4 linked regions of the Homo sapiens genome follow. The protein of the gene in region 3 purifies or fractionates together with the protein of the main gene of each other region. This does not show direct contact. Each region holds a gene or a part of one and is shown on either strand. Other genes may lie near its edges. The genes, in order: NUDT9, ACP6, SDHAF3 and ALDH1L1.

The links.
Region 1: the proteins of SDHAF3 (region 3) and NUDT9 purify together in Homo sapiens (co-immunoprecipitation; one large-scale study listed by IntAct). This does not show direct contact.
Region 2: the proteins of SDHAF3 (region 3) and ACP6 purify together in Homo sapiens (affinity purification with mass spectrometry; one large-scale study listed by BioGRID and IntAct). This does not show direct contact.
Region 4: the proteins of SDHAF3 (region 3) and ALDH1L1 purify together in Homo sapiens (co-immunoprecipitation; one large-scale study listed by IntAct). This does not show direct contact.

The regions. Positions count from the first base shown.
Region 1 is NC_000004.12:87,425,560-87,433,675, forward strand, and holds part of NUDT9 (ADP-ribose pyrophosphatase, mitochondrial isoform a precursor), read left to right. Parts: intron 1-8,116.
Region 2 is NC_000001.11:147,646,507-147,650,024, reverse strand, and holds part of ACP6 (lysophosphatidic acid phosphatase type 6), read left to right. Parts: intron 1-1,613; coding exon 1,614-1,779; coding exon of another isoform or gene 1,780-1,848; exon of another isoform or gene 1,849-2,458; coding exon 2,459-2,602; 3' UTR 2,603-3,518. UniProt on the Homo sapiens protein: Hydrolyzes lysophosphatidic acid (LPA) containing a medium length fatty acid chain to the corresponding monoacylglycerol.
Region 3 is NC_000007.14:97,174,520-97,181,918, forward strand, and holds the end of SDHAF3 (succinate dehydrogenase assembly factor 3, mitochondrial precursor), read left to right. Parts: intron 1-2,943; exon of another isoform or gene 2,944-2,979; intron 2,980-5,740; exon of another isoform or gene 5,741-5,830; intron 5,831-6,492; coding exon 6,493-6,696; 3' UTR 6,697-7,244; downstream 7,245-7,399. UniProt on the Homo sapiens protein: Plays an essential role in the assembly of succinate dehydrogenase (SDH), an enzyme complex (also referred to as respiratory complex II) that is a component of both the tricarboxylic acid (TCA) cycle and the mitochondrial electron transport chain, and which couples the oxidation of succinate to fumarate with the reduction of ubiquinone (coenzyme Q) to ubiquinol.
Region 4 is NC_000003.12:126,159,276-126,167,391, reverse strand, and holds part of ALDH1L1 (cytosolic 10-formyltetrahydrofolate dehydrogenase), read left to right. Parts: intron 1-6,389; coding exon of another isoform or gene 6,390-6,412; coding exon 6,413-6,539; intron 6,540-6,954; exon of another isoform or gene 6,955-7,107; intron 7,108-7,216; exon of another isoform or gene 7,217-7,309; intron 7,310-8,116. UniProt on the Homo sapiens protein: Cytosolic 10-formyltetrahydrofolate dehydrogenase that catalyzes the NADP(+)-dependent conversion of 10-formyltetrahydrofolate to tetrahydrofolate and carbon dioxide.

The sequences.
Region 1 (8,116 bases), on a different chromosome or scaffold from region 3:
AAGTTTTATATTTTTAGTAGAGATGGGGTTTTACCATTTTGGCCAGGCTGGTTTCGAACTCCTGACCTCAGGCAATCTGTCTGCCTTGGCCTCTCAAAGTGCTGGTGAATACAGGTGTGAGCCCCCACGCCTGGCCAAGACCCTGTCTCTTTGAAAAAAAAAAAAAAAAAAAGAATTTTACCAGTCTTTGATAATTTGGAAAAACCCAGAAAGTGACAGTTTTGCACTTAGTTTTTGTGATTACTAGAAGGTTTCCAATGTTCATTTTCTTTTTTAATTGCTCTGTCACCTAGGCTGGAGTGCAGTGGTGTGATCATGACTCACTGCAGTCTCAACCTCCTGGGCTCAGTGATTGTCCCAGCTCAGCATCCTGAGTATCTGGTACTACCGGTGCGCACTACCAGGCCTGGCTAATTAAAAATTTATTTATTGTTTGTAGAGATGGGTCTCCCTATGTTGCCCAGGCTGGTCTCAAACTATTGGGCTCAAGTGATCCTCCTGCCTTGGCCTCCTAAAGTTCTGGGATTGTAGGTGTGAGACACTGCTCCCAGTCATCAAATGTACATTTTCTAGAAAAAAGGTAGTATATTACAAAGATGTAGTGAATGCTTTTACATACCACAACATACAAATCTTCCAGAAGGATCTACTGGTGATGTGTGTAGAATATTGTTTTATTCCTGTGAATGCATAAAACATATGAATGAACCAAAAATGAAATAGAGATAGTAAAACATAGTGTTAAGAGCCTGGAATTCTAAGACAGCTTGCCTAGGTTTGGATCCTGATTTCTACTCTCAATTGTGTGACCTTGGTAAACTTATTTACCTCTCTGGGTCTTAATGTTCTTATTTCCTTTTTTTTTTTTGAGACAGAGTCTCGCACTGTCGCCCCAGCTGGTGTGCAGTGGTGTAATCTTGGCTCTCTGCAACTTGTGCCTCCAGGGTTCAAGCGATTCTCCTGCCTCAGCCTAGTGAGTAGCTAGGATTACAGGCGTCTGCCACCATGCCTAGCTAATTTTTTTGTATTTTTAGTAGAGACGGGGTTTCACTGTGTTGGCCAGGCTGTTCTTGAACTCCTGACCTTGCGATCGCCTGCCTCGGCCTCCCAAAGTGCTGGGATTACAGGCGTGAGCCACTGCGCCTGGCCTTAATGTTCTTATTTATAAAAAAAAAAATTGAAAAAGGATAATATGGCCTGGTGTGGAGGCTCACACCTGTAATCTCAGCACTTTGGAAGTCCGAGGCAGGAAGATTGCTTGAGCCTAGGAGTTCAGGACCAGCCTGGGCAACATAGAGTGAGACCCCATCTTGACAAAAAATAAACAAAATTGGGAGTCGCTCAGCCTACCTGATTTACCAAACCACTCCCTTGCCAAAAAAAAAAACAAAAAACTAAACCAAAAAAAAAAAAAGCCAGGTGTGGTAGCATATGCCTATAGTCCCACCTACTCAGGAGGCTGAGGTAGGAGGATTGCTTGAGCCTGGGAGGTCGAGATTGCAGTGAGCCATGATTGTACCAATGCATGCCAGCCTGGGTAACAGAGTGAGGCCTTGTCTCAAAAAAAAAAAAAAAAGTTAAAAAAAAAAAAAGTACCTGAACTCAGTTGTGAGGATCAAGTGAGTTAATTTACAGTGCTTAGAACACTGTCTTGCACATAGCAATCACTATATACATTTAGGTGTGATTATGACAATGATTGTTGCAGATTTTATTTCAAAGCACCACGTCAGTATTGCATTTTTAAAAGTTTGCCAGTCTTAAGAATTGGTTTTTGCCATGTAAATGGACTTTATCAGCTACTTAGTTCCCATTTGCTAGGCCAAATATATTTCTTGCACTTGTTCAATAATACAATACAAAGGTCAAGGCTGTATATGTGTGTATTACAAGTATTCTTTTTTCTGGTACCTTACAGTGTATCACATTTAAATAGCATATATAGATAGCAGTGTTAGCACTTCTTGATGTGATAAGATGTATAGCCTGAATTTTTGCACAATTAAATTTGTTTTAGAAAAGTAAATAATCCAGTGTGTAAATCTGTCTTGTCAAGTAGGTAGATTTGTGGAATTCCATAAACATTTTATTGCTAAATCAGGGAACAAAGAGCCTTAAGTTATTTAAACATTTTTGGTACGTGGGTGGGATGGAGTGGAACAGCATTAGTGTTTCCTGTTTGGTATTTAATTAATGGCCTTAACTTTTTTCTTGCCCTACTCCCAAACCATGAAACATAACTCATTTTGTGATAGGGTTCAATTAGAGATTAGGGTTCCATATGTTAAAATTTTGCTTTTTAAAACACCTGAAGTCTGTTTGCTAATTTTGATAAATGTGTTTCATATATGTATTCATTTTTTATTGAGTATGGGTTTAAGGTGAGTGAGGGAGACTTTATTTTCAGAATATTCATTGTGTAGGTTTCCTAAACTGTGGCAGCTGAGGCAAGAAAGTTGTCATAATCATAATATGAAAGTGAATGAACCTACTGCTTTTAGTAAAGTTAGTCACAAATCAAATACTCGCTCACGTTACACTAGTTTTCAGCCCGTCTGGGGATATTAACTTCTTTATTAGTTAGGTTTTCCCTCATTTTTGGGTGTTTTACCACACTTTGCAGATGTAAAGTGAGTGTAAAATGAAATAGTAATTGTTTCAGAGTCTTTAAATGTGATGAAAGAGAACAGCTTGAACAGTATATAAAACTGTAGACACACAAGAATAGGAAAGAATGAAACCAGTTAAAAATCCAACTGACAGTTTGTCAGTTTCTTACAGAACTCAACACTTATAATTCAGCAATCACACTCTTTGGTATTTACCCAAATGAATTGAAAATTTATGTCCACACAAAAACCTGCACACAGATGTTTATAGCAGTTTTATTCATAACTGCCAAAACTTGGAAGCAACCAAGATGTTCTTCAGTAGGTAAATGGATAAATAAACTGCGGTACATCCAGACAATGGGATATTATATTATTTAGTGCTAAGAAGAAATGAGCTATCAAGCCATGAAAAGACATGGAGGAATCTTAAATGCATATTATTAACTGAAGGAAAGGCTGTATGATTCCAACTATATGGCATTCTTGAAGGCACAACTATGGAGACAGTAAAAAGATCAGGAGTTGGATGAATTGGGGTAGCACAGAGGACTTTAAAAAATAGTCATTTTTTTAGAGCAGTTTTTAGGTTCACACCAAAATTGAGCTAAAGATAAGAGATATCCTGTATACCTCCTACCTCCACCCATGCATAGCCTCCCGCATTGTCAACATCCCCACAGAGCCACGGAGCCATACGTTTGTTAAAATTGAACCTACATTGACGCTTCATCACCCAAAGTCCTGTAGTTTATATCAGGGTTTACTCTTGGTCTTGTACTTTATGGTTTGGACAAATGTATAATGACACGCATCAACTCTTATGGAATTGTACACGTAAAATTCACTGCCTTTAGGGCAGTGAAACTTGCGTATGATACCTAATGGTAGGTACATGTTTACACTATATACACCGAAGAGGGACCAGGAGGAAGTCTAGGAAGCAGTTCTTGTAAGTCAGGTTAAGAATTTTAATTAAAAAGGTTTCTTATTTTTTTAATGAGTCAGGATCTCACTATGTTGCCCAGGCTGGAGTGCAGTGGCGTGATCATGGTTCACTGCAGCCTTGACCTCCTGGACTCAGGAGATCCTCCCACCTCAGCTTCCTGAGTAGCGGCAACTACAGGCACATACCACCATGCCTGACTAACTTTTAAAATTTTTTGTAGAGATAAGGGTCTCACTGTCTCACCTAGGGTGGTCTTGAACTCCTAGCTTCAAGCAGTCCCCCTGCCTTGGCCTCCCAAAGTGTTGGGATTACAGACGTGAGCCACTGTGCCCCACTGAGAAGTTTCTTTTTATATATATATAATTATGTAATTTGCCCTAATTGCATAAATTTGATCAGGCATACCTCACTTTATTTGGTAAATTTGGGTAGTCTTTTTTCCTTCTCTTTTTTTCCTTGTTTCCTTTTCCTTCAGTTTTCTTATCCTTTTTAAATTTGTTTTTCTTTCTTGTTCTTTTTTTCTTATCCTTTCTTGCAACTCCCTTTCCTTTTCTCCTTTTCTCTCTCCCCGTTTCCCCCCCATCTTTGCCACTGTCTCTTCTTTCCCCCTCATCTCCTTTTTCTTCTCTCCTGTACTCCCCTTTCCCCCTCCCTTTCCTTTTCGTTCTCCTTCCTTTCTTTTCCCTCTTTCTGTTTGCCTCTACTTCTCTTCACATCAGCACCTTATTTCCTAGCCCATATTAAGAACCTGATTATATGGCTCCTTCTATATATGCTTATATAATAAATAGTATAGACAGTTGTGGTAAGCAGAATAATGGCCCCCCAAGTATGTCCACATCCTGATACCTGGAACCTGTGTATATGTTGCCTTACATAGCAAAAGAGAGTGCAGAGGTGGTTAAGGTTAAGGACTTTGAGATGGGGAGAGCATCCTGGAAGGTGCGCCTGATTTAATTGAGAGTCCTTAAAAAATGGCCTGGCCGTGATCAAAGATATGATTACTAATACATGGTCAGAGAGATTTCTATGTTGCTGGCTTTGAAGATGATGGAAGGGGGCCATGAGCCACAGAATGCAGGTGGAATGAGGATTCCCTCTAGAAGCTGGGAAAGTATGGCAAATGGATTTTTCTCTTGAGCCTCCAGAGAGGAATGCAGCCCTGCTGATAAATTGTCTTTAGCTGAGTGAGACCTGTGTTGGACTTCTAACCTACAAAACTGTAAGACAATGAATTTTTATTGTCTTAAGTCATTGAATTTGTGGTGATTTGTTGTGGCTTCAGTAGAAAACTAATACATTATATACATGCACTGAAATGTGCTTATTTATTTTTTATGTCATTGCTTTATAAAAATAGTACCATATTATAGGACTTTACTGAATCTTTTTTCAGCAATGCCTTACAGAAATACAAATTGTTTGATGTCATTTTTTTTATTGCAAGTAAATTTCTCCACATCCTTGCCAATACTTATTTTCTGTATTGTTTTTTTGATAGTGGTCATTCTAATGGGTCTGAGGTAGTATCTCATTGTGGTTTTGACTTGCTTTTGTCTAATAATTAGTGGTATTGAGCATCTTTCCATGTGCTTATTGGCCATTTGTATATCTTCTTTGGAGAAATGTCTATTGGAGTCCTTTGCCCGTTTTTAAATTGGGTTGTTTTGTTGTTGTTGTGTGTAGGAGTTCTTTCTATATTCTGGATATAACCAACCCCTTATCAGACATGTGATTACCAAGTATCTTTTCCTGTTCCATGGGTTGCTTTTTCTCTCTTGATTGTGTCTTTTGATACCCAGAAGTTTTTCATCTTGATGTAATATATAGTCCAGCTTACCAATTTTTTCTCTTGTTGCTTGTACTTTTGGTGTCATATCCAGAAAATCATCACCAAATCCAGTGTCGTGAAATTTTGTCAGCATGTGTTCCTCTAAGATTTTGATCATTTTAGGTCTTATGTTTAGGTCTTTGACCCACTTTTAATTAATGTTTTTATATGGTGAAAGGTAAGGGTCAAACTTCATACTACTTTTGCATGTGAATATCCAATTTTCCTAGCACCATTTGTTGAAAAGACTGCCCTTTCCCTGTTGAAATGGTCTTGGTACCTTTGTCAAAAATTATTGTGAGGATTTATTTCTGGGTTCTACTTCTATTCCACTAGTCTATATGTCTTTCTGTATGCCAGTATCTCAGTGTTGTGATTACTATAGCTGTGTAGTAAGTGTGAGACCTTGAACTTGTTTCTCCCTTTCAAGATTGTCTTGGCTATTTGGGGTTCCTTGAGATTCCATATGAATTTTAAGGTAGAGTTTTCTCTTTCTGGAAAAACATCATTGGGATTTTGACAGAGATTGCATTGAATCTGCGGATAACTTTGAGTAGTATTGACATCTTAATATTTTTTTCCAGTCAATGAACATAGGATGTCTTTTTATTTATTGGTGTCTTTAATTTCTTTTAGCAATAGTTTGTAGTGTTCAGTGTATAAGAGTTTTGCTTCCTTAAGTTTATTCCTAAGTATTTTATTCTTTTCTATGCTATTGTAAGTAGAATTTTCTTAATGTTCCTTTTGGATTGTTAATTATTAGTGCTTTGTTTGTTTGTTTGTTTTTGAGATGGAGCCTTGATCTCGGCTTACTGCAACCTCCGCCTCTGGGGTTTAAGTGATTCTCCTGCCTCAGCTTCTCGAGTAGCTGGGATTACAGGCACACATCACCATGCCCGGCTAATTTTTGTATTTTTAGTAGAGACAGGGTTTCGCCATGTTGGCCGGGCTGGTCTTGAACTGCTGACCTCAGGTGATCCACTAGCCTCTGCCTTCTGAAGTGCTGAGATTACAGGCATGAGCCAGTGCACCCAGCATGTTAGTGTTTTTTAATGTAACCATTTTTGTGTGTTGATTCATACCTTGCAACTTTGCTGAATTCATTTATTAGTTCTAACAGTTTTTTCATGAATTATCTTGGGTTTTCTACATAAAACATCATGCGATGTGTAAATACAGGTTGAGTATCCCTTATCTAAAATGCTTGAGACCAGAGCGGTTTGGATTTCAGGTTTTGGAATATTCACATACACATAATGAGATGTCTTGGAGATGGGACTCAAGTCTAAACACAAAATTCATTTATGTTTTATATATACTTTAAACAGGTAGCCTGGAGATACTTTTATACAGTATTTTAAACTTGTGCCTGAAACAGTTTTGGTTGTGACCCATCACATGAAGCCAGGTGTGGAATTTTCTATTTGTGGCATCATATCAGCACTCAAAAAATTTCTGATTTTGGATTTTTGGATTAGGGATGCTCAACCAGTTTTACTTCTTCCTTTCCAATGTGGATACCTTTTCCTTTTTTTTTCTTTCCTAATTGTTCTGGCTAGAACTTCTATTTCTTTCCTAATTGCTCTGGCTGAACTTCCAGTATTATATTGATTAAAGTGAACATCCTTGTCTTGTTCCTGATCTTAGAGGAAAAACTTCCAGTCTTTCACCTTCACACCATTAGCTGTGGGCTTTTCATATATGGCCTTTATTATGTTGAGGTAATTTCCTTCTATTCCTAGTTTGTTGAATATTCTTAAATCGTGAAAGGGTGCTGAATTTTGTTAGATAATTTTTCTGCATCAATCAAGAAGATTGTGTTTTTTTTTTTTATTTTGTTAATGTGATACATTATGTTGATTGATTTTCATTATATAGAACCATCATTGGATTCCAAGAATGTCTCCCTTGGTCATGGCATATAATCCTTTTCATGTGCTGTTGAATTCTGTTTGTTATTATTTTGTTGAGGATTTTCACATCAGTATTAATCAAAGATAATGGTTTGTAGTTTTTTTATAGTGTCTTTGTCAAGCTTTAGTATCAGGATAATGCTGGCCTCAGAGTGAGTTTGGAAGTGTTTACTTCCTCTTCACGTTTTTGGAAGAGTTGAGGGAATATTGGTGTTGATTCTTCTTTAAATGTTTGGTAGAATTTATCAGTAAAGCCATCTGGTCCTGGGTTTTTCTTTGTTGGGAGTAAATAGATACTTTAAAAAAATTCACCTTTTAAAATTATTTATACAACCCCATCCAAACTTTACTACCTATCCTGCAATGTTTATTTTTTCCTTTATGGTCATCAGCCCATCCAAGATCATTGATTGCTTCTAATTGTCATGTCTTTTTAGTCTTAATCTATCTGGAAGAGTTCCTGCACCTTTCTCTATCTTTCATGACCTTACCAATTTAGAGAGTACACACCTTTATTCTGTAAGATGTCTCTTAACCTGGGTCTGTCTTGTGTTTCCTAATGTTCAGATTCATGTCATATATTTTTGGGAGAAATACCTCAAATGACTGTTGCATGCTTCTCACTGTATGAGATCAGGAGGCACATGCTGTTGACTTAGTCCACAACCTTGGTCAAGTGGATATTTGCCCCGTCAATCATTTGTCTTAAGAAGGGCAAATTGACTGGTATTGTGAGAGCAGGGGAAAGGAGCTATCATAATTTTACCATGTCCTCAGAATCTCCTTTCCCACTTGAGATGTCCTAATTTAAGGT
Region 2 (3,518 bases), on a different chromosome or scaffold from region 3:
GTTTAACAGGCCTCAAGTGTCAAAGAGGTTCACAATCTTTTAACCTTTCTTCCTGCTGCACCCCTCCTACCATGTTTTGAAAATTTTATTTTTGCTTTCTCTCTCTCTTTTTTTTATTAATTGAAGATATGTCAAACAGTAGCCAATTATGATGTCACACTGATTTGATATGATAATAGTCCAAAACAAAGATAAATTGCTTAATGGATTGTGTAGTTTGAACCACTTTCATTGAGTGTAAAGAAGGTATGATATCCATAAGGCATTTAAAAATATTGGAAGTGGCCAGGTGCAGTGGCTCACGCCTGTAATCCCAGCACTTTGGGAGGCCAAGGTGAGTGGATCACGAGGTCAGGAGATTGAAAACATCCTGGCCAACATGGTGAAACCCTGCTCTACTAAAAATACAAAAATTATCCGGGCATGGTGGCACGCACCTTTAGTCTCAGCTACTCGGGAGGTTGAGTCAGGAGAGTTGCTTGAACCCAGGAGGCGGAGGTTGCAGTTAGCCAAGATCACACCACTGTACTCCAGCCTGGTGACAGAGCCAGGCTCTGTCTCAAAAAAAAAAAATGTTGGAAGTAGCTCATGAGCCTCCATTGCCACTTTTGGAGCCTTGAATCCAAGGTTGGGACTACGGCTGTGGAATATTATGTGTCCTAGGCACTTGCTAAGTGCGTTCTGCAGGAAAACAGCTTCACCGTTGCCCAAGAACTCATCAGGTTCTCAGGCTCCAGCCTGATCTACTAAATCAGCATCTGCAGTTTAACAAGATCCCCAGGTGATTGATAGTCACCTGAATTTTGGAGAAGCACTGTTGTGGTATCACAGCTAGAAACTCATGATGGCGTAAGAGGAATAGGAGACAGTGAGTTGAAACAGGAACTTTGGGCCAAGATTTGTAATAGCAAATCTTGTGAATACCATTTCCTGTCCTTCACAGTACCTGCAATGACAGTACATTTTTTCTGGCTTTTGCCACCTTGCCACCTTCTGCCTTGGATCTTTAGAACACCACAGGATCCAATGCTAGTCTTCTAGGATGGGGGTCCATAAATAAAATCCTTGGTCTTTCCTAAGAGATGGATACTGGTGTCAGGCAGATGTAGATTAAAATGGCATTCTTATTACAGATTAAAGCCATTTGGAGAATGTGCTGAGGGCCAAATGGGCTTGTGAATATTATTTTGAAATAAACTTAATACCCCAAAACTTCAAGCTTCCCCAACAAGGAGCCCTACTAAACTCATCCCATGGCTGAGAGTAGGAAGGGCATTCATGTAGGCTGGCAGGACCCAAAGAGAGAAGAGAGGTAGGGTCTAAGCCACACACGCTCAGTTTCTTCTTTGAAACTCACCAGGGAGGAGTGAGTAGGTGGCAAGGAGGAGGCCAGGAGAATTTCTCTGGCGGGGACCCTCCTCATGAAGACACGGGGAGTGGGAACAAGGGTTCTTCCCACGATCTACTGCAAAGGACTTTTATACCAGGCTCAGCTGATTTCTAGATGTCACCTAGTTTCTGAGGCAAGTGTGTCTTACGTAAAGGAGGCAGGCCACATCCTGACCTTCAGAGTCCTGAGGCAGAGAATTGTGGAGAGCTGTTTCCTCTTGCAGAAAGCTGTATCTCTATGCGGCTCATGATGTGACCTTCATACCGCTCTTAATGACCCTGGGGATTTTTGACCACAAATGGCCACCGTTTGCTGTTGACCTGACCATGGAACTTTACCAGCACCTGGAATCTAAGGAGTGGTTTGTGCAGCTCTATTACCACGGGAAGGTAATACCCCTGAGGTGGGGTTGGGTGGTGGTGAGGCACCCTCCTGCAAAACCCACCTACCTGAGTTAGCACCAAGTCTCCCTCCTCAGGCCCAGTGGAGTCTCTCTTGGCACAGTCAGCTCTCTGAATCCTATAGGGCAACTCCTGGCTATGGCCCAGGGGTCAGGCAGAACTTGACAGATGGTGGCAGGATGGGGCTTGAGCCTTATCCCAGTTCTGTTACAGACTCCTAGGAACAGGGTCCCCCTCCTCTTCTCCTGAGCGTCCCTGTCAGGATGTCGCCTCCTGGCTGTGAGACCTGTTTTGGAGATTGTTGGTGGTATCTTTGGGAGGTGATGTGTGCTGCTGTTAGCACCCGTGGTGTTGGCTGCTTCATCAGGGCTGGGGTCCAGGGCAGAGGCCAGAGCACGCCCCAGGGATGAGCCTGTTGGTTCTCCCAGCTCGGGGATGTAACTCGACTCTTTCTTCCCAGTCAATTCAACACTTTTTGAGTGACTTTTACAAGCAGAGCATAGTGCTTTTATTCTGGAAGCTCACCGGGTAGTGGGGCCTTCCTGTCTGTAATATGTATGCACATGTATACCACATGGATCAGAGCCTCTCAGATCTCTGGGCTTAGCTGGAAATAGCAGAAGGACAGGTTCCTCGGCGGACCTGCTGAGTTATGTTTCTTCTGCAGGAGCAGGTGCCGAGAGGTTGCCCTGATGGGCTCTGCCCGCTGGACATGTTCTTGAATGCCATGTCAGTTTATACCTTAAGCCCAGAAAAATACCACGCACTCTGCTCTCAAACTCAGGTGATGGAAGTTGGAAATGAAGAGTAACTGATTTATAAAAGCAGGATGTGTTGATTTTAAAATAAAGTGCCTTTATACAATGCCTCCTGCTTTGTGTGTTTGGGAAGAGGAGAGAGCAAGGGGTAATGTACTTTAATATAATGTAAGGATATTTCCTTTCTGTGGGTTTACTAAGATTTCTTCCTGAACGGAAAAGGGGTATAATATTGAGACCAAAAGGATATTTCTCTATTTTGTGAGTTGGTTTCTAAGGTTAGAAGCATCTTTGTGTGACACGGGCTGGGGACATCATGACCCTGTAGAATTGTGTCGGTTTTGGACTTTAGTTCTTTTCTCCTATATTAATTTCACATGTATTGAGCTACCTACTAAGTAGTGATCATTATAAAGGTGAAAACACTCTGCCCTCAAGTTGTTGCAGTCCAGTGGGAGAGGCAGCCGAGTAAATCAGTGATACAGTGCTGTATGTTTTATGCTGTAATAGGTATTTGAGGGGCTATTTGGGTATAGAGAAGAAACTTCCTGCTCACATGGCAGGGGATGTGGGGAACAGTCAAGGAAGGCTTCTGAAAAAGTCCTGGCCTGATCTGAGTAGAGAAAGGTGGGTAGGAGTTAACCAGGAAAGCAAGGATGAAAGCGTGTTGCGTTTAGATAAAGGATAGGCTTCAAGGTCAGGGAACGTTGCTGGGTGGTGAGATGGAACCCTGATGTGGAGGCTCAGCAGGAAGAAGCAGGAAGGACACTGGGCCCCTGGTGGTTTTAGTTCCAGAAACAAATGTGGGCCCCAGGGCTCTGCAATGGTAAGGCTGGAACTACTCAACATAAGAGCTCCACCTTTAACTGTGCCCCCTAAGAGTACCTGATGATCCCCCTATCTCCTTGTCAATGTTGCTGTTCTTCTCCAGAATCTATTTCAACCCTTCTCTGATTTCAAACCACCAGT
Region 3 (7,399 bases):
TGCCTCACATTTAGTCATCAGAGCTCCTTAGCTTCCTCTAATCTGTAATAGTTCCTTCCTTCCTTTTTCCTTGTCATTGATGGCCTTAAAACTTTTGAAGGGTACTGATCAGTTATTTAATAGAGTGTCCCTTAATTGAACTTTATCTGATGTTTTCTTATGATTAGATTGAGGTTGTGCATTATTGGGAAGAATACCACCGAGGTGATACATCCTCTCAGTGCCTAATTATCGGGAGGTACATGAGGGCAGTGTGACTTACTACTGGTCATGTTTACCTTGATCATTTCATTGAGGTGGTATCTTTCAGCTTTCTTCACTGTAAAGTTGCTATTTTTCCTTTATTACTTCTGAGACTGGCGTTGTTATGTAGTTTTTCATAGTCTGAATCATGCTGATTGCATTCCCATGGTGATGTTTAACACTTAGGTCTCTTGTGTTTCCTGTAAATTGATAATTAGATGTAGAGGCTTACTAGGTGTATTTTTTTGTTTGTTTTTGGTTTTCTTGTTGTTGTTGTTTTGGTAATATGTACTAATATCAGAAGACATGTAATATCTGGTTGTTTCTCTATGTTATTCCTTGAAATGGTTTATTTAGTTTGATTCTAAATGCTGGTAAGAAGAAATCTAATATAGTTCATTTCTATTCTTTAAAAACATCTGTATAATAGATAAATGAGTTCTAAAATTGAAGTAATTTAAGATAATTTATAATTTGATTGTTTTCTTAATGTTATTAAACTGACACTTTTTTAGATTTTAATTTTAGGTTTGAGGGTACATGTGAAGGTTTGTTGCATAGGTAAACTTGTGTCATGGGGGTTTGTTGTACAGATTAGTTCATCACCTAGTCATTAAGCCCAATATCCAATAGTTATCTTTTCTGTTCCTTCTTCCACCCTTATGTAGGTGTCTGTTGTTCCCCTCTTTGTGTTCGTGAGTTCTCATCATTTAGCTCCCACTTACAAGTGAGAATGTGTGATGTTTGGTTTACTAAAAACTAAGCAGTCCTCTTGCCTTGGCCTCCCAAAGCTCTGGGATTACAGGTGTGAGCCAGTGTGCTCGACCATACCAGTAATTTAATAGTATCAATTTGATTCAGACTATAAGCAAGTTTAATATACAGGTAGAGAATTAGAGAGTACAGTGAAGGCATAGCTGGCCTTATAATATTTAATTGTTCTATCACTGACAAACTGGTACTACAGCTTCTCTGCCTTTTCAAAAACTCTAGTGGGAAACAGTATAGCATGAACGTTAGTTTTTTTCTACTAGGAGACTTTAAGACTGTGTTTCTGTAGTTCACTGCTGTATTAATTTCCTGTGTCTGCTGTAATAAATTACCACAGCCTGACTTAAAACAATGGTAGTGTATTCTGGAGAGGCCTAATTAAAGAGTGAGAGGCTCTAGGGAAGAAATCCACATCTTTCAGCTTCTGGTGGATCCAGGATTCCCTTGAATTATGGCCATATCGCTCCAAACTTATTTTTTCTTCATATCACATTCTCCTCTGTATGCCTAATTTATCTCATCCCCTCTAAGAATACTTGTGACCGTATTTTCAGGACCATCAGGATAATCTCATCTCAGAATCCTCAATCACACTTGCAAAACCTATAATATACATATAAGGTAACACAGTTTCAGAGATTAGGACTTGACATATTTTGGGGACACCATTCAGCCCACTGCACCTGCTCTCACCATACTCAAAAGTGTCTCTCTTCGACAGCTTTCTGCTACTTGAAGCAGCTGCTTAACTTACCCTGAGGAAGCACTGCACATTCTCTTTGGTTCAAGAGAGCAATCATAGGGAATCTTCTAACTTTCGGGATAGCATTATTCTTAGAAGCCAGCATAACAGTTTGAAACCAAAGGATGCTGTTAGTTAATGTGTAGTGTAGTATTTTTCTGTTCTGAGTCTCTTCCCTCCAGGTAGATATGCTTGGCGGGGTGACTTAGTCATAAATTCACATTTTACTGCTGCTTCTTCCTATATCTGGAAACCTCCAAATTGTGGTCCTGAAGTTATTTTTATTTTGGCCATTTTTCTCTCTTGCCAGGAAAGGAATGCTGTTGCAAGTACATGGAGTCAAAGACTAGTCGGTAATGGGTGGTGTACGGGCGAAAGGTTGGGTTTTTTTGTTTCCTTTTCGTGAGTCTTTCTACCCAAGATGTTCATTCATTGATCATTTCTCACACATGAAATGTATTTCTACTTTCCATAAGAAACATTATTCCCATAATTATTATAAATTATACCCTAAGTGAAATATTCTCTGAAATTATGCACAAAGTTATGAAAATTTTCAAAAATGGGAAAGTTATGTATTCACCACTCAGATTTAACAAATATTAATATTTTGAAATATTTAGTTCACTTTTTTAAAGTAAATAAATATTAAAAGGTACAGCTAAAATTCCATTCCCCTTTCTTACTCCTCAGAGGTAATCAGGATCCTGATGTTGGTTGTTTCCATGCTTGTTTTTATGTTTTGTACATTTGCATATATTTGTAAATGATATATATATTTTTAAACTTTTAAAAAAGATTTTTGCTTTATTTTTCAACAATTTAACTATCATATGCTTAGGTATAGTATTTTGTATTCTGCTTGGAACTTGCTAAGCTTCTTGAATTTATTTTTCCTTAAAATATTCATTAAAATTCATAAAACTTTATAAAAATAAGATATCCGGCCAGGCACAGTAGCTCAGGCCTGTAATCCCAGCACTTTGGGAGGCTGAGGCGGGTGGATCATGAGGTCAGGAGATTGAGACCATCCTAGCTAACGCAGTGAAACCCATCTCTACTAAAAATACAAAAAATTTACCTGGGCGTGATGGTGGGCATCTGTAGTCCCATCTGCTGGGGAGGCTGAGGCAGGAGAATTGTGTGAACCCGGGAGGCACAGCTTGTAGTGAGCCGAGATCGCGCCACTGCACTCCAGCTTGGGCAACAGAGCGAGACTCCGTCTCAAAAAAAAAATAAGATACCCATTAAAATTTATTTTTCTGCTAAGGCAGTAACCTCTTTTCTTGGATTCCACTTAAACTTACGGTAGATCTTTTGGCATTGTTTCACAGATCACTGATCTTTTACTCATTTTTTAAATAGTTTTGTTCTGTTTAAAACTGGATAATTTCTATTGCTGTATTTTCAAGTTCATGAATCTTCATCTCCAGTCTACTATTAAGTGACATTTAAAAAATTCCAGATAGTGCATTTTTGAGTTCTAGAATTTATTTGGTTCTTATAATTCCTCATTCTCTGCTGAGATTTATCTGCCCCATTTATGATGACCGTATTTTCTTTTACATACTTAACATTTATAGTACCTGCTTTAAAATCTATCTCTGCTTATTCTAATGTCTGAATAATCTCAGGCACTGGTCTCCATTGATTGCCTCTTCTCTTAACTGTGTTTGTAATAATTTTTAATTTTTTTCCTGGACACTGTAAATGATACATTGTAGAGACATTATTCTAGATTTTTCCTCACCCAAACGGAAACTCGGTGGCCATTAAACAGTAACACCCTCTCCTACCTCCTCCCAGCCCTTAGTATTATCTATTCTTTCTGTCTATGAATTTTCCTATTCTAGATATTTCATGTAAGTGGAATCATACAATATGTCTTTTTATGTTTGGCTTCTTAGCATAATCTTTTTAAGGTTTATCCATGTTGTAGTATGGATCAGAACTTCATTCCCTTTTAAGGGTGATAAATATTCCATTGTATGTGTATACCACATTTTGTTTATCTGCTTGCTGGTGGACATCTAGGTTATTTTCCAAATGTCGTCTATTGTGTATACAAGTATGTGTTTGAGTTCCTGTTCTCAGTTATTTTGGTAATATACCTATGAGTGCATTTGCTGGATCATATGGTAATTCTGTGTTTAACTTTCTGAGGAACTGCCAGTCTTTTCTGCAGTGGCTATACCATTTTATATTCTCATTATCAATGTATGAGGATTCTAGTTTATTCCAACTGTTATTTTTCTGGGGTTTAAAAAATTATTATAGTAGACATCTTAGGGTGAAGTGGCATCTCATTGTGGTTTTGATTTACATTTTTCTAATGGCAAATGATTTTGACCATCTTTTCATGTACTTGGCCATCTGTATATCTTTGGAGAAATGTCTATTCATGTGCTTTACCCATTTTTAAATTGGGCTATTTGTCTTTTAGTTGTGGTTCTTTATATATTCTGGATAATAAACCCTTTTCAGATACGATTTGCAAATTTTTTCTCATTTTGTAGTTTGTCTTTTTACTATTAGGTGTCCTTTGATGCACAGAAGTATTTAATTTTGATACTGTCCAGTTTATTTTTGTTGTTGTTGCTTGGGCTTTTGGTGTCATATCTAAGAACCTATTGCCAAATCAAAGGTCATAAAGATTTACCTATATATTTTCTTCTAGGATTCTCATGATTTTAGCTCTTATATTTAGGTCTTTGATTCACTTTGAGTTAATTTTTGTATATGGTAGAAGATGGGGTGTCTAACTTCACTCTTTTGCATGTGGAAATTCAGTTTTCCCAGCACCAGTTGTTGCCTAGATTATTCTTTCCTCCACTGAATGGATTTGACATCTTTATCAAAAATCAATTGGCTATATATGTAAGGATTTACTTCTGGACTCCTCATTCTATTGGTGTTATATATCTATTCTAATGCCAGTGCCACACTTTTGTTTAATGTGGCTTTCTAGTTAAGTTTTGAAATTGGGAGTTGTGAGTCCTCTGTTTTTGCTATTTAGAGCTCCTTAGTTGTCCATTTTTGTAAATGAATAATTTCTTAAAGCCTGCTTTTTAGATTTTATTTTTTGGAGTTTCATCCGTGTTGATACATAGACTTGTAGCTTATTTGTTGTGACATCTTTATTATCATCTGAGTAAATTTCAGTGTATTTGACTTTTCTATTGAAGTACAATTATTTCCATTTTTTTTTTTTTTTTTGCTTTAACAATCAACATTCTTCTGCATGATACTTGTTCACATGTTTTAAAGTTTCTTTAGGATGGTAGGGTGATTTTTGCCTTGCCAGGAAACCTTTGGCAGTGTTTCGAGACATTTTAGATTATCAAGACGGGGAGAGGGGTGTTACTGCCATCTGGTGGTCAGAGACAAGAGATGCTGCTAAACATCCTGCAATGCAGACTCTCACTGACCCCTCCCCACCCCTACCCCCCCTACACACACAAAATAGTGCCAAGGTTGAAAAACCCTGCCTGCCCTGAAGCATATAGAAGTGGAATTGATAAAACTTGAAATGTTTTCATCTTAATAAGTGGATTTCTGTAAATCATGGAAAAAATATTTTCTCCATAGGTTTGGAATGTTTGGAATTAAAGTTGCTCTGGCAATGCTGCCATTCCAGCAATTACAAGCAATTTATATATCTCAAGCCAGATCAGGTAGCAGCATTATCCAGAGTTAGCCAGTTCATTCACTTTAACTTCATGAACTAAAATACTTTGGCACTTTGTCTGCTTAAAAGATTAATTTTAGAGTGAGTCTGTTTCAAAACAGTGGCACTTGTGCAGATGGGGATAGTTGGAATATTAGGCTGAATGTACTTAATAAGAGCAAAATTAGAACATGAAAAAGTTTTTCTTGACACAGATGGTTGTTAAACATTGAAGACTTAAAGGTTTAAGAAGTTTTTCTCTAGTATATTTTAAATTAAAATTGTAATTGAAGACATAGGAATGAATTTAGACTCACTTGAAGATGTGTTACATGTCACCGTGGAATACTGTGCTGCCATAAATAGGATGAAAGCATGTCCTTTGCAGCAACATAGATGCCATGATCCTAGGCAAATTAACACAGGAACAGAAAAATAAAATTTTAAGTGGGAGCTAAACATTGAGCACACATGGATGTAAACTGGGAACAGCTGACAGCATGGACTACTGGAGGGTGGTATGGGTTGAAAAGCTACATGTTGGGTATTGTGCTTACTCCCTGGGTGACAGGACCTGTACCCAAACTTGAGCATCATGCAGTTATTCCCATCTAACAAACCTGCACATGTACCCCTTGTATCTAGGGGATATATGTGCAGGTTTAAAATAAAAGTTGGGGGAAAAAAGACCCATGGTTCCTGTTTGAGAATCCGTTGAAAGCTATGGCCCCAGAAATGATGTCCGTACTTGTGTAAATACAATTTTGCATATGGTTTGAGGTGGTTTATGCATGCTTCTGAAGCCCATCCAGGGACTCACCACTCTTTACTTATATCCAGGTTAAAAATTTTGCTAAAAGTTGGTTAAAACACTTAAAGTGCTAAAAATAGATATACATGAAATGATCAATGAATTGTATCTTCACAACTATATTTATATCTCCTTAACCAAATGCTTCTGCATTTACTGATGAGGAAAAATAGGTGACTCAGAATTAGAATTCAAGTCCTCTAATGTTAAATATTATTTAAACTTTACATCTATAACCTTCATTCTTTATCTTTTTAGGTGTATGCAACAGCGTTATTGCAACAGGCTAACGAAAACAGACAAAATTCAACTGGAAAAGCATGTTTTGGCACCTTCCTCCCAGAAGAAAAACTTAATGACTTTCGTGATGAACAAATTGGACAGTTGCAGGAGCTGATGCAAGAAGCCACAAAACCCAATAGGCAATTTAGTATTTCTGAGTCTATGAAACCAAAATTTTAGTCTATACAACAAAGCTTAATAAGACATGCAAAAATTTAGAACCCCTACTTTAACTGTCATTGGTTTTTGAAATATATTTAAGCTTTGAAAACACCTGTTATTAATGAAATACTCTTTTATTTTGGATATTATGATTGCAGTATATGGATCAAGATCACTAGTGACAATTGAAAAAAACTATTGGAATAATAGCACTTGTATGAAATTCAGTTTTGGAACTAAACAGCAAATTTCTAGAATTTTGCTGAAAATGTTTTAAAATGCTATTCTCATCCAGCCATATTAGTCTTCTGGCTTTTCTTTAGCTTCATCAAATAAGCATGTTGTGATAATGATAGATGTACAATTCCAACAAGGTTATTATTTTTTAAATACATTGTCATTCTGAACATTTTATCACTTCTAGTTTAATAATACATACATGATTTTTCTTCTGAATGTCTCTTCTCCCTGCATCACTGTTCATTCACAATGAAAGGTTAGGAAGAAGCTTTAAAATTCACTATTTTACTATCAATCATTTGTATAATAAACTATACAAAGTATAATACGTTTCCTCCAGTGTTTGTTTGTTAATAACAACCCCTGAAATAATGTGTAGCTACATTGAGACTCTCATTTATCAACTAATAGTTGAGGACATTACAAATCAACTTAAGTATAAGAAACTTTCCTAAGATCTCAAATTTAAAAAACGGTAACC
Region 4 (8,116 bases), on a different chromosome or scaffold from region 3:
AGCTTCAGCATGAGAATTATACTTCAACACAGAAAGTTAGGTCTATAAGTGAAATATAATAAAGTGTTCTGAAAAGAAGGAGACTACCTTACAACCCCAAGAGAAAAATATGCGGCACTAAGCCCTGGTTCCTTTTTTCCTTATTGTTTTGTCATTTTTTTAGAACTTTGGGAACTAAAATCTTTTTGCTTAAATGCTGAATTTATAAATTGAAACAGACTCTTGGGTTTTGTTATAAAGGCAACGTAATAATACTTCTATGTATTTTATAGGCTTATATAGTATAATAACTTGAATTTATGGTTGGATTTGACTGAACCTACGTAGATACTAATCTGAATGACTCATATACAGAAAATGTGCAGTATTTTAAGTATAAAAAATTAAACTGGACTAGTTTGCTTTTGTTTTATAGTATAAATGAAAATGACCCAAACTATTTAATTGTATGAGCAGAAATTATGAATGAAAGATGTATTTTAGAGCTATATGACAGAGGGGCATTTTAACTTGAATTCCCCAGTGGCAAAAGTAGTGTATAAACTAATGCTAGTGTATACACTACTGAAGTGCCAACTTATGTAACATTTTTAAATTTAATTTTTAAAATGAAAGATTTTTTTTTCACTGTGAAGGGCAGTAACATTAAATTTTCCCAGTGGGTATGAGTGAATGATTTACTTAGTACATTGATATACTTAACTATTAGCATTTTTGGGAAGCTGGATTTGATACAAATTTATTTTGAAAAACATGGTTTATGAAATTTTATAATAAAATTATTAATAAAGACATTGTTAAGTTTCTATAAACATGCACTAAAAGTGGCAAGACAGAGTGGAGAAATGTAATTTTGGCTGAGAAAAAAACTTTTTTCAGGAAAACAAGATTTATGAAGAGAAAAACATAAAGGACTTTTGAATATACTTTCTTGGATATCCATTTTAATTAAGCTGAGCACTCTTTTTTATTAAAGGTAAGGGTGGATTTTGGAATTATATAAATGTTATGCCAAGTTAAATGAAAGGATTGAGTTATATGCAGGAATTCCCTGTGATAATGAGAGGGATTTTTAGAGAAAGATCCCAGAAGCTGTTCTATCTGCCACAAATCAGACATGGAGAAGGGGACATGAACGTGAGCAATGCCTTTAACCCTGGCCACTTCCCGGAGAGGGAGAATGGCAGGGGAGGTTTGACTGGTTGGAGCAGTTTTTGAACCGGTGGAGAAGGACGAGGGGTGCGGTTTAAAGTAGAAGAAACCCTGAATATGGGGAACCTATTGCCAGAATCTCTGAGATACAGCTAAAGCAGTGTTAAGAGGAAAGTTTCTAGCACTAAATGGCTTCATCGAGAAGATAGAAAGATCTCAAATTAACAAACTAACTTCACCTAAAGGAACTAGAAAAAAAGAACAAACCAACCCCAAAGCCAGTCAAAGAAAAGAAGTAAAAATTAGAGAACTGAATGAAATTGAGATGCAAAAATCCATACAAAAGATCAATGAAATCAAGAGTTGGTTTTTCAAAAAAATAAAAATAAACAAGATCATTAGACCACTAGCTACATTAACACACAAAAAGAGAAGATCCAAATAAGTATAGTCAAAAATGGCAAAGATGACATTACAACCAATCCACAGAAATTAGAAAAGATTCTTAGAGAATACTGTGAACAAATATATGCACACAAATGAGAAAATCTAAAGGAAATGGATAAATTCCTAGAAACACACAATCTCCCAAGACTAAAGTAGGAAAAGATTGAAATGCTGAATAGACCAATATTGAGCTCTGAAACTGAATCAGTAATGAAAACAACTACCAACCAAGGAAAGCTCAGGGCCAGATGGATTCACACTGAATTATACCAGACATACAAAGAAGTAATGACACCAATCCTATTGAAAGTATTACAAAAAAATTGAAAAGGAGGGGATCCTACCTGACTCATTCTGTGAAGCCAGCATCTGCCTAATACCAAAATCTGGCAGAGACATAACAAAAAAAGAAAACTTCAGGCCAATATCCCCGATGAACATAGACACAAAAATCCTCAACAAAATACTAGCAAACCAAATCCAGCAGCACATCAAAAAGTTAATATACTGTGCTTAAGTGGGCTTTATTCTTGGGATGCAAGGCTGGTTTAACATACACAAATCAATAAATGTGATTCACCACATAAACAGAATTAAAAGCAAAAACTATATGATCATCTCAATAGATACAGAAAAAGCTTTGGATAAAATCCAACATCCCTTCCATAAGCGAAAAACAAATAACCCCATTAAAAAATGGGCAAAGGACATGAACAGACACTTCCCAAAAAAACACGTACAAGCAGCCAACAAATGAGGAACATTTCAATATGTTCCTCATCACTAATTAAAATGAGGAAAATTTTAATATGTTCCTCATCACTAATCATTAGAGAAATGCAAATCAAAATCACAATGAGATACCATCTTACACTGGTCAGAATGGCTATTACTAAAAAGTCAATAACAGTGCTGGTGAGGCTATAGAGAAAACAACGCTTATACACTGTTGGTGGGAATGTAAATTAGTTCAGCCACTGTGGAAGTTTCTTAAAGAAAAGTTTAGAGATTTCTTAAAGAACTTAGAACTACCATCCAACCCAGCAATCCCATTACTGGGTATATACCCAAAGGAAAATAGATCATTATATGAAAAAGACACATGCGCTTGTATGTTCGTCGTTGGACTATTCACAACAGCAGTGACAGGGAATCAACTTAGGTGCCCAACAATGGTGGATTGGATAAATAAAATGTACATATACACCATGGAATATTACACAACCATAAAAAGGAGTGAAAGCATGTCTTTTGCAGCAACATGGGTGGACTAGAGGCCGTAATCCTAAGTGAATTAAGGCATAAACAGAAAACCAGATACTGCACGTTCTCACTTGTAAGTGGGAGCTCAACATTGAGCACACATGCACATAAAATGGGAACAACAGACACTGCAGACTGCTAGAGGGAGTACGGGAATGGGTTGAAAAAACTCCGTTGGGTACTGTGCTTACTACCTGGGTGCAATATGTTCATATATCAAACCTGCACCTGCACCCCCTGTTTCTAAAATAAAAGTTGAAAGAAAGAGAAAGCTACACCAAAACCTGAATAGGACATTTGTTACAATGAAGTATTTGACACATCAATATTTCTTTTCTTCTTTTCTGCCTCACCCTGCCCTGCCCCGCCCTACCTTGCCTTGCCTTGCCTTTTTTTTTTGAGACATAGTCTCACTCTGTTGCCCAGGCTGGAGTGCAGTGGTAGGGTCTCAGCTCACTCTAGCCTAGACCTCCCAGACTCAAGTGATTCTCATGCCTCAGCCTCCCAAGTAGCTGGGACTACAGGCACGTACTACCATGTCCAGCTATTGTTTGTTTTTGCAGAGATGGGGTCTCACTATGTTGCCCAGGATGGTCTTGAACTCCTGGCCTCTAGCAATCTGCCCACCTCAGCCTCCCAACGTGCTGGGGTTGCAGTCATGAGCGACTGGGACTGGTTCATGTCAATATTTCTTACAAGCATAGATTTAAAAACAAATAAAATACCAGCTCTTCAAATTCAGAGATATATAGAAAGGTTATACATCATGGTCAAGTGGTATTCATTCCAAGAATGCAAAGGTGGCTTAACATTTAAAAATCAATCATTATGATCCACCACAATAAAATAAAAATCTCATGACCTATAGGAAGAACATTTGGTAAAAGTCAACTCCTTGTCATGATTGGCAGCCAGAAATATATTAATAAGACAACTTTCATAATATGCTAGTCTATCTACCAAAATTCCCCAAAGCTAACCAATGGTCAAATATTGAATGGTTTCTTCCCAAGGTCACAGGAATGAGACAGGAACTACTATCACCATCTGTATTCAATATTGTAGTGGATATATTGGCAAGTGCTATAAGAAAGTAAATGAAATGAAAGACTTCAGGATTAGAAAGAAAGAATTAAAACCAACATCATAACATGATTTTATACTTAGAAAACCACAAAGAATCTACACAGTATGAAAATTTATATGTGAAGCAATTAAGGTGCTAGTTAATACAACGTCAGTGTACAAAATCAATTGTATTTCTATATGCTAGCAACAAAAAAGACAAACCAATTTTTAAAATGGGTCAAAACTCGAATAAACATTGCTCCAAAGAAGGTATACAAATGGCCAAAAAGCACATGAAAAGATGTTTAACATCATGATTCAATAGGAAAATACAAATCAAAACCACAATGAAATACCACTTCACAACTACTAGGTAGATCAGCTACAATAAAGCTTTAGGTTATGTATCTTCACCACTACAACAAAAAACATTTTTAAGCTATACTAAATGCAAAGATAGACAAACTGACTAAAGTTTCAAAGATAGATGTGTACATGTATGATCCTTTTCAATGAAGAAACGTCTTTTCAGTAACTAGTGCTGGGTTAATTTTATATGCAGATGGAAAAAAAATTCTGGACTTCTACCTTATATTGTATGAAAAAATCAGTTCCAGAGGGATTGCACATCTAATGTAAAAGGCAAAACAATAAAGATCTTGAATGACAAGGAGAACATCTTCATGAAGTTGGAGTAGGCAAAGATTTTTTAAATAGAATACAAGAACCACTAAACATAAAGGAAATGTTTGATAAAATGTACTATATTAAGTTTAAGAACATCTGTTCATCAAAAGACATTATACGAGGATGAAAAAGGCAAGCCACAGAATTAGGGAAGATATTTTCCATACACATATCTGACAAAGAGCTCAAAGTCTAGATGATTAAAAAACAAAACAGAGCAACAATACAAAAAAACTCCTTTTCAATAAGAATAAAACCACCCAATGGAAAAAAACAGACAAAAGATTTGAAGAGATGATTCCCACAAAAGGATATCCAAATAGCCAAGAAACAGGAAAAGGCATTCGACTTCATTGGTCATCAGGGAATTGCAAATTAAACCCCAATGAGACAGCTGTATTTCATGTTAGGAAAAGCGCTAAAATGAAGACACAAGCCAAAGTGGAGAGCACATGGAAGTGGAAACTAATACAACCACTCTGGAAAACTGGCAGCGTCTGTTAAAGCTGGAAATTTTCACACCTATGACCCAGGAATTCCACCCTAAGTACACACCTGACAGAGATGTGTACATGTGTACCATGAAGACCATGTGCAAGTATCTTTGTAGCATCCTATTTGTAATACCTTTAAACTGGTAACTACCCAAATTCCATTAACAATAGAATGAATAAATGAACTAGAGGTCATCCACATATCAAAATACTCTGCAGCAATGAGAATAAACTCAGTACAACTACATGCAACCACAAAGATAATGTTGAGGGAGAAAATCTACAAAACACTGCATGGTTCCATTTATGTAAAATGAATACATATAAAGGGGATATATATATATATCAAGCGAAACCATTCGATGCTGTTAGAAGTCCCATCATTCTTGGTGAATGTAGTGACTAGAAGAGGCTCAAAGAGTTCCTGGAGTTTTTCTCTTTCTGGTGGTGTTGACAGTGGTGTGTTTGGTTTGTGAAATTCATTGAGCTACACATCTATGATTTGTGCACTTTCTGTATGTATGAAGTACACATTACTTTAATAAAATTTTCCAAAATAAAATCTTATTTTCGTAAAAGGACAATTTAAAGAACTGTATTAAGTGAATAATAGTTCAGGTTTTACAGATATGCGTGAGGTGAATGAATGACCAATCTTTGGAGAATGTGCATGATTAGCTAGGCTTCATTCTACACATCTTCCTTAGTGGAATCCCATTCCACTTTCCACCACCTTCATCCTCAGGCGCCCCCACGCAGGCCCCTTTTCTGTTGCAGCTCAGCTGGACAGCCCCTTCGGCGGGGACTCCCCTTGCTCCTTTTGTGACTCCTGGCTCAGAGGAATAAGCCTAATTTGTAGGCTGAAAGCCATTTGAGAGATGTGGCATCTTTCTCATGAACAAGTGTGACTTGACCAAGGCCATAGAACTGGTTAGTTACAGAAATATGCTCAAATACATATCAAACATCTTGACACCCAACATTCCATGCCAGTTTGGAAGGTTTCAAAAAGAAATCCCCTAATTCTACAATCCATTTCCAGCTCACCTGCTGTCGCATTGAATATTCTGACATTAGGGATCCATTGGGTCATGTGTACATGTTTCATCTGGTCTCTCTTACAGTGGCAGTCTCCCCTCAGTGGCCTGCCACCCACAGAGCCACAGAGGGGACTGGGGTAGAGCAGGCCAGGTGCCATGAACTGCCCTGTCTTGAACCAGGGCTGGCTTCTCTGAGACCAGCGATCTCTGTCTAATTGCTGCCTTATTCCTTCTCCAGGTCCTTCCAACCCTCCTGCTACCATGAAGATTGCAGTGATTGGACAGAGCCTGTTTGGCCAGGAAGTTTACTGCCACCTGAGGAAGGAGGGCCACGAAGTGGTGGGTGTGTTCACTGTTCCAGACAAGGATGGAAAGGCCGACCCCCTGGGTGAGTGAGCCAATGGAGCAGGGAAGCTGATGGAGGGCGGCCCGCCCATCCAGGTAGAAGGGAAGCAGTAGGTGGGAGTCTGGGAGCAGAAGTCTGCAGGGCCTGTGCTCTAGCTGGGAGGCAGCCATAAGTGGTCTACCTTGAATCCTGCTCCAGTGCCAACAGGCTGCTGGGCTTTTCTGGAATAAATTGGAGATCCCCTCCCCACCTGATCATGGGGTGGCATTAGGGTCCTGGAGAAGGGCTATAGAGAAGCCCAGCCTGGTCCCAGGTCCCACACAGAGCTTCTCTGACCCAGCACCCATGATTGGGAAGGTCTCCATGTTCTGAACTGGGGGTCCATATTCTGAAAGGTGGGCATGCGCGGCATCACCATTGCTGGGGCTGCCGTCAAAACACATAGTGCTCTACTTACCCATCAGGGGAGAGACCATGATCACAAAGGTGGTTTTCCCAGGGCGAGTCTTCTCCATTGTACTCTGGATGTGCTGATCCCTGCAATTTCCCCAAAGGTGGGAAACTCGACTTCATAATTTGTGGTAATGGGGAACTGCATTTGCACTCTCCCCTGGCATTTTGTAAAAGAAAAGAAAAAAACACAGAGAGTACTAAGCGCACCCTGAGAGTTTCGGATTCAGAATGAGGTGGAAAAGTCAGAATTAGGTGAAATTGTTAACCTGGGACAAGTTCCTGGGAGATACTGGCATCTCTTGTACTAGGAAAAGCACGTTTTGAGAATCATGGGTCTGGGTCACTGCCTTTGAGCTGGGAACCTCAGCAGACAGGATGCAGGGGCCTCAGCTTGGATGAACAGACCCTCTAGGAACACTGACTGGTCCTTCTCAGGCCTGATGGAGACAGACTGTGGGGCAGGGCTTAAGGATAGAGGGCCAGGATTAGGAAAGGGGGCTTGTAGGCCTGGCCAGGCACAGAGGTGTAGTTTGTTAAGGAAAGCCAGTCTCCCTCAGTGGGGAAGCTGCAGCCTGGCCCTAGAATCAACTCCAACACTCAACACCCAATGCCAGCCAGGCTTCAGTCTTGGACCTGACCACAAGTGACCCATGACATACCCTGACCCCACCACAGCCTGGGTCCTACACCCAGCCACTAAGTGACCACTGACCCCAGCTGCTGACCCTGGACCCAGACCAGGCCTGGCTGGGACTCCTACTTGGCCTTGATCTCAGATGTCCTGAAGCAGTATTTCATTGGTCACTGTGGGACAGCTTTTGCAAGTGCAGTCCAATCTGCTGACATCACATCCCACCCTCTCTCAAAACTACCAGACACCAGGACAGAGTGACAGAGGAGGAGACCGGAGAGGAGAGCCAGTCCAGTCAGGGCCCAAACATCACACCAGAGGCTCTAACAGAGAACTGAATACAAAGAAGTGTTCCTTGGGTATTGAAGAGTGGAAGGCAGAGAGCCCAAAGTTATTGGGGACAGCGACTGCAGGAAGCAGCTGCCACTGTAAGGCTAAGATAAAGGAGGACGCTTTAACTATAAAAACTTGGGAGCTTGGGCCTGTAATCCAGACCTGTGAGGAGGGTGTGCTGGTGACGGGGCAGGAGGAGGGG